Linked DNA regions of Homo sapiens: region 1 is linked to region 2. The links come from fine-mapping of genetic effects on gene expression. A gene starts in region 2. The other region holds a variant in brackets. All regions are shown on one strand. Distances are from middle to middle.

What was found. PIP is the estimated chance that this variant, and not a neighbour inherited with it, causes the effect. A credible set is the group of variants that fine-mapping cannot tell apart.
Region 1: its variant is the best candidate, but not a certain one, in a credible set for the expression of PPP1R13L in whole blood (INTERVAL, PIP 0.72).

Annotation. Positions count from the first base shown.
Region 1 is chr19:45,375,077-45,379,591 of GRCh38, reverse strand. No RefSeq gene overlaps it. Among named protein-coding and RNA genes, the nearest start is that of ERCC2, 6.8 kb to the right of the region's middle. RefSeq lists enhancers at 2,575-3,413, 3,414-4,251. The variant T/C (reference allele first, on the strand shown) is at 1,914.
Region 2 is chr19:45,403,093-45,407,092 of GRCh38, reverse strand. PPP1R13L (protein phosphatase 1 regulatory subunit 13 like) reads left to right here and starts at 2,024. Exons shown (of 13, transcript NM_006663.4): 1 at 2,024-2,094. POLR1G (RNA polymerase I subunit G) reads right to left here and starts at 449. Exons shown (of 3, transcript NM_012099.3): 1 at 375-449. The coding sequence starts at 396. RefSeq lists enhancers at 1,173-1,372, 1,343-2,138.

The DNA of each region.
Region 1 (4,515 bases), 28 kb after region 2:
TCATTGTGGTTATGATTTTTGGCAAGGCAGTCTGAAAGTAGCCCTTTCTTCTTCTTCTTCTTTTTTTTTTTTTTTTTTTGATCTCACTCTAGTGCCCAGGCTGGGGCACGATAGCGCAATCTCAGCTCACTGCAACCTCTGCCTCCTGAGTTCAAGCGATTCTCCTGCCTCAGCCTCCCGAGTAGCTGGGATTACAGGCATCTGCCACCCCACCTGGCTAATTTTTGTATTTTCAGTAGAGACGGGGTTTCACCATGTTGGCCAGGCTGGTCTTGAACTCTTGACCTCAGGTGATCCACACACCTCGGCCTTCCAAAGTGCTGGGATTACAGGCCATTAGCCACCATGGCCAGCCTGAAAGTAGCCCTTTCTAAGGGATTCTTTTCACACAAGTCCAATCCTTTATTTTATATTTCGGATTCTTCTTTTGTGTCCTTTAGTTTCAAGTACATGCCTGATAATTCTATCACCTGAAGTTTGGAGGCAGCTAATCCTATAGTTTGTTGTGTCTGCTGGTTCTCACTCATGGTGGGCTGTTTCCTTGGGTGTTGAAATTGTAGGTTGAGAGGCCAGGCGCGGTGGCTCACGCCTGTAATTTCAGCACTTTGGGAGGTCAAGGCGGGTGGATCACTGGAGGCCAGGAGTTTAAGACCAGCCTGGCCAACATGGTGAAACCTCATCTCTACTAAAAAGCACAAAAATTAGCCTGGTGTGGTGGTAGGTGCCTGTAGTTCCAGCTACTTGGGAGGCTGAGGCAGGAGAATCTGTTAAACCCGGGAGGCGGAAGTTGTGGTGAGCCAAGATTGCACCATTGTACTCCAGCCTGGGCTACAAGAGCAAAATTCCCTCTCAAACAAACAAACAAAAATCTCTGCCAGCTTGGACAACATAGGGAGACCCTGTGTCGATCAAAAATAAAAAAATTAAGCCAGGTGTGTGGCTCACGCTTGTAATCCCAGCAATTTGGGAGGCTGAGGCAGATGGATCACCTGAGGTCAGGAGTTTGAGACCAGTCTGACCAATATGGTGAAACCTGGTGTCTACTAAAAATACAAAAATTAGCCCGCCGTGGTGGTGTGCACCTGTAGTCCCAGCTACTTGGGAGGCTGAGAAAGGAGAATCGCTTGAACCCGGGAGATGGAGGTTGCAGTAAACCGAGATCACGCTACTGCACTCCAGCCTGGGTGACAGAGCAAGACTCTGTCTGAAAAAAAAAAAAGAAAAAAAAAATTGCCGGGCGTGGTGCCTCACGCCTGTAATCCCAGCACTTTGGGAGGCCAAGGCAGGTGGATCACCTGAGGTCAGGAGTTCGAGACCAGCCTGACCAATATGATGAAACCCCGTCTCTACTAAAAATACAAAAATTAGCTGGGCGTGATGGCATGTACCTGTAATCCCAGCTACTCAGGAAGCTGAGACAGGAGAATCACTGGAATCCAGGAGGCAGAGGTTGCAGTGAGCTGAGATAGCACCATTGCACTCCAGCCCGGGCAACAAGAGCGAAACTCCGTCACAAAAATATAATAAATAAATAAATAATTAGCTGAGCGTGGTAATGTACACCTGAGGTCCCAGCTACTCAGGAAGCCAAGGTGGAAGGATCGCTTGAGCTCAGGAGGTAGAAGCTGCAGTAAGCTGTGATCACGCCACTGCATTCCAGCCTCTGCCACAGAATAGACTTTGTCTCAAAATAATTTTTATTTATTTTATTATTTTTATTTTTTTATTTTATTTTTATTTTTATTTATTATTTATTATTATTTTTTTTTTTTTGCGACGGAGTCTCGCTGTTTCGCCCAGGCCGGACTGCATTGGCACTATCTCGGCTCACTGCAAGCTCCGCCTCCTGGGTTCATGCCATTCTCCTGCCTCAGCCTCCCGAGTAGCTGGGGCTACAGGCTCCCGCCATGGCG[T/C]CCGGCTAATTTTTTGTATTTTTAGTAGAGATGGAGTTTCACTGTGTTAGCCAAGATGGTCTTGATCTCCTGACGTCATGATCCGCCTGCCTCGGCCTCCCAAAGTGCTGGGATTACAGGCGTGAGCCGCCGCGCCTGGCCTCAAAATAATTTTTAAAAATGAAAAATAAATAAAGACCAGGAGCCATAGCTCACGCCTGTAATCCCAACACTTTGGGAGGCCCAGGCAGGTGGATCATGAGGTCAGGAGTTCAAGACCAGCCTGGCCAAGATGGTGAAACCCCATCTCTACTAAAAATACAAAAAATTAGCCGGGCGTGGTGGTGGGCGTCTGTAATCTCAGCTACTCAGGAGGCTGAGGCAGGAGAATTGCTTGAACCCAGGAGGTGGAGGTTGCAGTGAGCTGAGATCGCGCCACTGCACTCCATCCTGGGTGACAGAGCGAGACTCCGTCTCAAAAAAAAAGAAAAAGAAAAATAATAAATAAAACCAAACCTCTGCACTCCGTGATTCATCATGAGAGAGATAATGATTCAAATGAAATATATTGCTATGATGACTGTTTCCAAATTGCTAACATAGTTTATGACCAATTTTTGGTTTGTCAAATTCATAATCTGTGAATGTGACCTTATATGGTAAAAGGGAGGTTGCAGTTGTGCTGACCTTGAGGATCTGAAAATGAGACAATAATCCTGGAGTATCTGAGTGAGCCCTAAACCTGGTCTCCAGTGTTCTTTTTTTTTTTTTTTTTTTGAGATGGAGTCTTGCATTGTCACCCAGGCTGGAGTGCAGTGGCACGATCTCGTCTCACTGCAACCTCTGCCTCCCAGGTTCAAGCGATTCTCCTGCCTCAGCCTCTCAAGTAGCTGGGATTACAGGCACCTGCCACCATGCCCGGCTACTTTTTTGTATTTTTTTAGTAGAGACGGGGTTTCACTGTGTTGGCCAGGCTGGTCTCGAACTCCTGACCTTGTGATCCGCCTGCCTCGGTCTCCCAAAGTGCTGGGATTACAGGCGTCAGCCACCATGCCTGGCTCCAATGTTCTTATAAGAGGAAGATTGGATAGGAAGACAGAGACAGGCCATGTGACACTTGAGCCAGAGGCTAGCTGCCAGCTTTGAAGGTTAGGGAAGGGGTTCCGAGCCAAGGAATGCAAGGTATGCAAAGAATTTGGCTCTAGAAACTGAAAAAGACAAGGAAATGATTCTCCCGTGGAGCCTCCCTGGAGATCATAGTGCAACCTAGCAGGAAGGGCCCTCCCACTACCCGCAAACCCCACTTTAGTTTTTTTTTCCTCTAGTGATCGCCATTTTTTTTTTTTTTTTGAGATGAGTCTCACTCATGGTTCACTGCAACCTCAACGTCCCAGGCTTAAATGATCCTCCCGCCTCAGCCTCCCAAGTAGCTGGGACTATAGGCACCACATCCCACTAATCTCTCTCTTTTTTTTTTTTTAATTTTCCGTAGAGACAGGATCTCACCGTGTTGCCGAGGCTGGCCTTGAATTCCTGGGCTCAAGTGATCCTCCTGCCTTGGCCTCCCAAAGTGCTGGGAATATAGACATGATTCACTGCACCCAACCAACATTGGATTGATATTCTCTTAAATTCTCCAACTTTTTCTCCCATTAAGGGACATAGTGCTGTTTATTAGATGGGTAATATCATAGATAATTCGACTTGGACCATGGAGTTCATTCAAATTGTGTATCTTGACAATTTTAGTATTGGCTGATGTAACATGACAATCTAGGAGAGTATTTCCTTGGTATTTAATTCATGTTCTGCTTGGTTTAGCAATTTTATAAACCAGCCTAGGCCTTGCACAGTGGCTCATGCCTGTAATCCCAGCGCTTTGGGAGGCCAAGGCAGGTGGATCACCTGAGGTCAGGAGTTCGAGACCAGCCTGGCCAACATGGTGAAACCCCGTCTCTACTAAAAATAAAAAAATAAAAAAAAAAATAGCCGAGCATGGTGGTGGGTGCCTGTAATCCCAGCTCCTGGGGAGGCTGAGGCAGGAGAATCACTTGAAACCGGGAGGCGGAGGTTGTGGTGAGCCAAGATCGTGCCACTGCAATCCAGCTTGGGCAACAAGAGTGAAAATCCATCTCAAAAATAATAAAATAAAATAAAATAAAATATAAACCAGTCAGTTTCTTCATTAGAGTTCTGGAAATTCTTACCCAGTCCAAACAATATGATCCTAAAATTTATCAGAAACCTATACTCAGGCTGGGTACAGTGGCTCACGCTGGTAATCCCAGCACTTTGGGAGGCCATGGCGGGCAGATCCCTTAAGCCCAGGAGTTCAAGACCAGCCTGGGCAACGTGGCGGAACCATGTCTCTACTAAAAATACAAAAAATTAGCTAGGCACGGTGGTGCACACCTACAGTCCCAGCTACTCAGGAGGCTGAGGTGGCAGGATCACTTAAGCCTGGGAAGTTGAGGCTGCACTGAGCCATGTTCTCACCACTGCACTTCAGCTGGAGCAACAGAAGTGAGACCCTGTCTCAAAAAAAAAAAAAAAAAAAAAAGAGAGAGAAAAGAAACTTTTATGCAACAGTGCTTGTCAGGGTCCTTCCATCCTTTCTCTCTTT
Region 2 (4,000 bases):
TGCAGCAGAAGGGGAAATGGGGTCGACTGACACCTCCTTGCCGGTCCAATCTTGCAGGGCGCGCCTATCGGTCCATTGGTCTTAACCTCGTGAGCACTCCAGTCCCCTCAACCTGGTTTCTCCTTTCTGCCCACCTGTTCCCCAGGGGCGACCTCAATTTCACCGATCCAACCCCTGGGGGCGCCTTGCTCTCCACGGGTAGCCCCCCACAAGATAACCCTCTCTCCGTTCGAATTCCCGTTCGCCCACTGGGAATGCACGCTCTTCGCAAGTCCTGCTTGCAGGTACGCCTCCTTTTCCGCCCGAACCCTCTCGGACGCCCCTTTCTCCTTCCACCAACGCACCCTCCGCACCCCGTCAACCCGCACCCTCACCGCCGGCCTGGGGCTCCTCCATCCTGGGACCCACACCTCAGGCAACCCTGTAGCCCGGGCTGCTCGCACCAGGTTGCAGACCACGTGGATCCAAAGGGGTAGGGCATCATCCGGGAGCGCCCAACTGGTGCGGGAGCGCGGGGGTAGGCATTGCTCGACTCCCGATCTGCAGGAAAAACTGGGGAAAATTTCAACGTGTGCAGAGCAGAAAACCGAGGAAGAAGTCTTTTTCCGAAAAATGTATTCCCGAAAGCCGCTGATTCGCTGTATTGCTGGAGTCAGAGGCCCGTCGGGTCCCGATGGGTCGCCCCCATCGTCTGTCCAATATGGTTTGTTGCAACGCCTCCTTAAAGGGGCAGCCACACTGCTCTTCCTAAGCCTTAAAGAGACAGGACGGTCGATTGGTCTGAAATTCTTGAAGAGACAGGTAAGAATACTAGTTAGTAGGGCTGTGCTTTCTGTGTTAAATGTCTTCTGGGGAGGCCCAGATGCCTCACAAGTTCAGAACTTGACTGGGAGAAGCGGGAAAATGGAGAAATAGGGGCAATCCGTCCGGAGGGCGTGAAGTTCCAGCCAGGGGCGGGGCTTCTGGACTCCGGGGGAGCGGGAAACATAGGGGGAGGAGCTTGTGGTTCTCGAGGGCGGAGCCTCGGACCCAGGAGCCCCACACGCGTGGAGTGGTGCTGGGCACGGTGTAGCGTTTGTGGATCAAATGGGACTTGTAGATGCCCTCGGGGGTTTAGTCTCATGCGTGGGAAACCTCGATGACTTTCAGGAAGGGACCTGATCGGCGACTCCTCCCTGCCCCAGGGAGCGTGTAAACAGCGGCACGTGGACACAGATTTGGGGGACGCACCCACTTCCCTTCCCACTGGGGCCGCCCCGCGTTGGGCGGCGGTTGGAGCCGCGAGACGGTGGCTAGACAGGGTGACCCGACTGCATTCCTGGCCAGTGTGTCAGCGCCACTTCCCGCCCCCTCTGCCAAGATTTAGGATCCTACTCCAGAATTGGGGCACCCCTTCTCCCCAGGTGGGAGAGGCTTTCCAGAGCGGAGGGAGGGTCAAGGGGAAGGGGAAATGTTTCCCCTATCCAGGATCTCCAGACGGTTTCCTTCGCGTGGGCGAGAGAGACACCGGGGTGCAGCCCCTGCGGGCTCCAGGACTACAATTCCCACAGGACCCGAGGCAAAGAGTCGCCCGAGGGCGGTCGCGGAGGCTGCTGGGGGTTGTAGTCCAAACTAAGATTTTGAACTCTTGCTGGGACATCCTTTGAAGATCCAACCCGCGCTTTTTATCGACGGGGAGATTCGGGCTCAGAGACCCTGGGGGATACTGATCAGGAAAGGGGATAGTGCGCCTGAAGGGGTGGGGCAAGGGCTCAGGAGTCAGTCTCCAGCCACAGCGAGGCAGGCGTCTCGGCTCTTCTGTATCTCCCTGGCCTGGTCGCTCTCGGCTTCTGGGCCTCGCCCTTCCTGTCTGTGAAATGGACTCTGGGTGAATCCAAATGGGATCGTCTTGGGCTACGTCCTGTCCCTCCGGGACTACAAGTCCCAAGGTGCTCGAGGCGACCTTGGCTCCCCCTCCCCACCGGGACCCGCCTCCCTCCAGCCCAAGTCACGTCGTCTAACCTGTTCCCAGCTCCTGCCCCGCCCCGTTCTCCGCTCCCCAAGCCGGAGCCCGAGCTGGAGGAAGCCCCCAGGTGCCAGGATCTGCCCGGATCCGTGAGTTTCACCCTCCTGGGGACCAGAGGCCCTGAAAAAGCCCAACACCCGCGTCCCTGGGAGGATTGGGAGGGGACTCGGACGCCAGGTCCCAGGGCGGAATTTGGGGCGCGCCGACACCTGGATCCTTAGAAGGAAACTCCGTTGCCTGTTTTACTGGAGGGAAGGAAAGCGGGTTCGGATGCCTGAATTCTTGGAATGGAGGGATTCTACCCCTTCATCCCGGGGAGACGTTGGAGCTGGAATTCCTGAGTCCCTCGAACTGGGGGGCTCTAGGAAGCCGAGTCTTTGGGTAGTATAGGGGTTCGAATCCCCGAGTCTTGGTCAGAAATGAGAGGCTCAGACTGGTGGGGCTCAAGGTGGAATGGGTGACCACCCTGCCAGCCTCAAGCTGCTGTCTCGACCGATCTTCTAGGTCTCTGAGCAGAATTAAGGGTGGGGCAGGGATAGTGGAGCCTGGGTTCCTGAAGTGGAGCAGGACAGGTACCCGGGGTCCCTCCGGAGGCTGTGTCCCGGCTCTCCCCCGACTTTTCGGCTCGGGGATGGGGGCGGGGTAGGAGAGAAAACACCGAGGCAGATCTCCAACCTCCTCTGTGCCGCTGAGCGAACCCAACATGTCATTAACCTGGGCGTCAGACCTGCCTAACCAGAGAAGGGACATCCGCCCTAGGGCACCCCCTGGCGGAGGTGGGCTCCCCTATTGCCTTATGGGGTGGGAAACAGCTGGGTTTGCAGAGGTAGTTCTAGAACCCAGGGCAGAATTCCGGAAAGCGGCTATTGGATTCTGGGAGGTTTGCATAGCCGGGCATTTAACCATTACACGGAGAGGAAGGGGTAAACTGAGGCTTGGAGCTCACACAGGCAGTAGAGTTTGTAGGGTCAGGATTCTGCCTCCTCCTTCTTCTGCAGCTCTCTGGGGGACGGGATTCCATCCGCCCCCGCCAGATTTTCTGACTAACCTTCTGCCTCAGGGCTCCTTGCCCTGACCCTGAGGTGAGAAATGTCACCTCCACGCCCATCTGTCTGACCTGGGGTATTGTGGGAGATAAGGGAGGGACAGAGGCTAATTCTGGAGGTGTCTGTCTGTCCTTGAGGCGGGGGGAGGGCAGGACCAGGCACCTCCCTCTGTCTATCTCCCCGTTCTCTCCACCCCCATGCGTCCTAAGAAGGGGGATTAAAAACAGAATGGGGGAGGCGAGCATCTGATGAGAGAGGAGTGTTTCCCAATGTCTGGGCTTGAAGGGCATTTGATGATAACCTGAAATGAAATTAAAAATAATAACCGTGGTTGCCAAAACAGGGCTCTGGGTGTACCAAGCTCAGAGCTGGTAGGTAGGTAGGTAGGAAAGCTCGCATTGTCTAGAGGAATCTTGGGTGACTGAGAGGTCTCCCTTTGAATAAGGTTTGCTGACCCCAGGGAAGGACTCCTCATTACGAGTGGAGAAACGGAGGCTGGAGAGTGGATATTGCCCACACCCTGGGCTTTTGCCAGCTTCTGTCTGGAATCTTCCAGGGCTCTCCCAGCCCTCCCGTCCCTAAGTGACTGAGGGTGATCACTGGCCAGACTCAGGAATGTACAGGGGAAATTTAGGACTCTGAGAGGCAAGGGCTCAGGAAGTTGAGACCCTGGGTGTCAAAACTCAGGGCTTGTATGATCTCAGAAAGAGTTGAAAGGGCCCTTTTAGGGGAAAAAAAAATTACATTGAGTCTGGACCCCTCACTCTGTTGCCAGACCCTGTGTTATTATAATGAACAGCCAAGGACATCTGGTAATTATGAATCCTGTATGTGTGAACTTTATTTCGCGCACTGCATTGTTCTAATCACGGCTTATAAATTATGTCACTCAATCCTCATACCCCTTTGAGGCGAAGGTATTAATTCTTCCCATGGTCCACATGAGGAA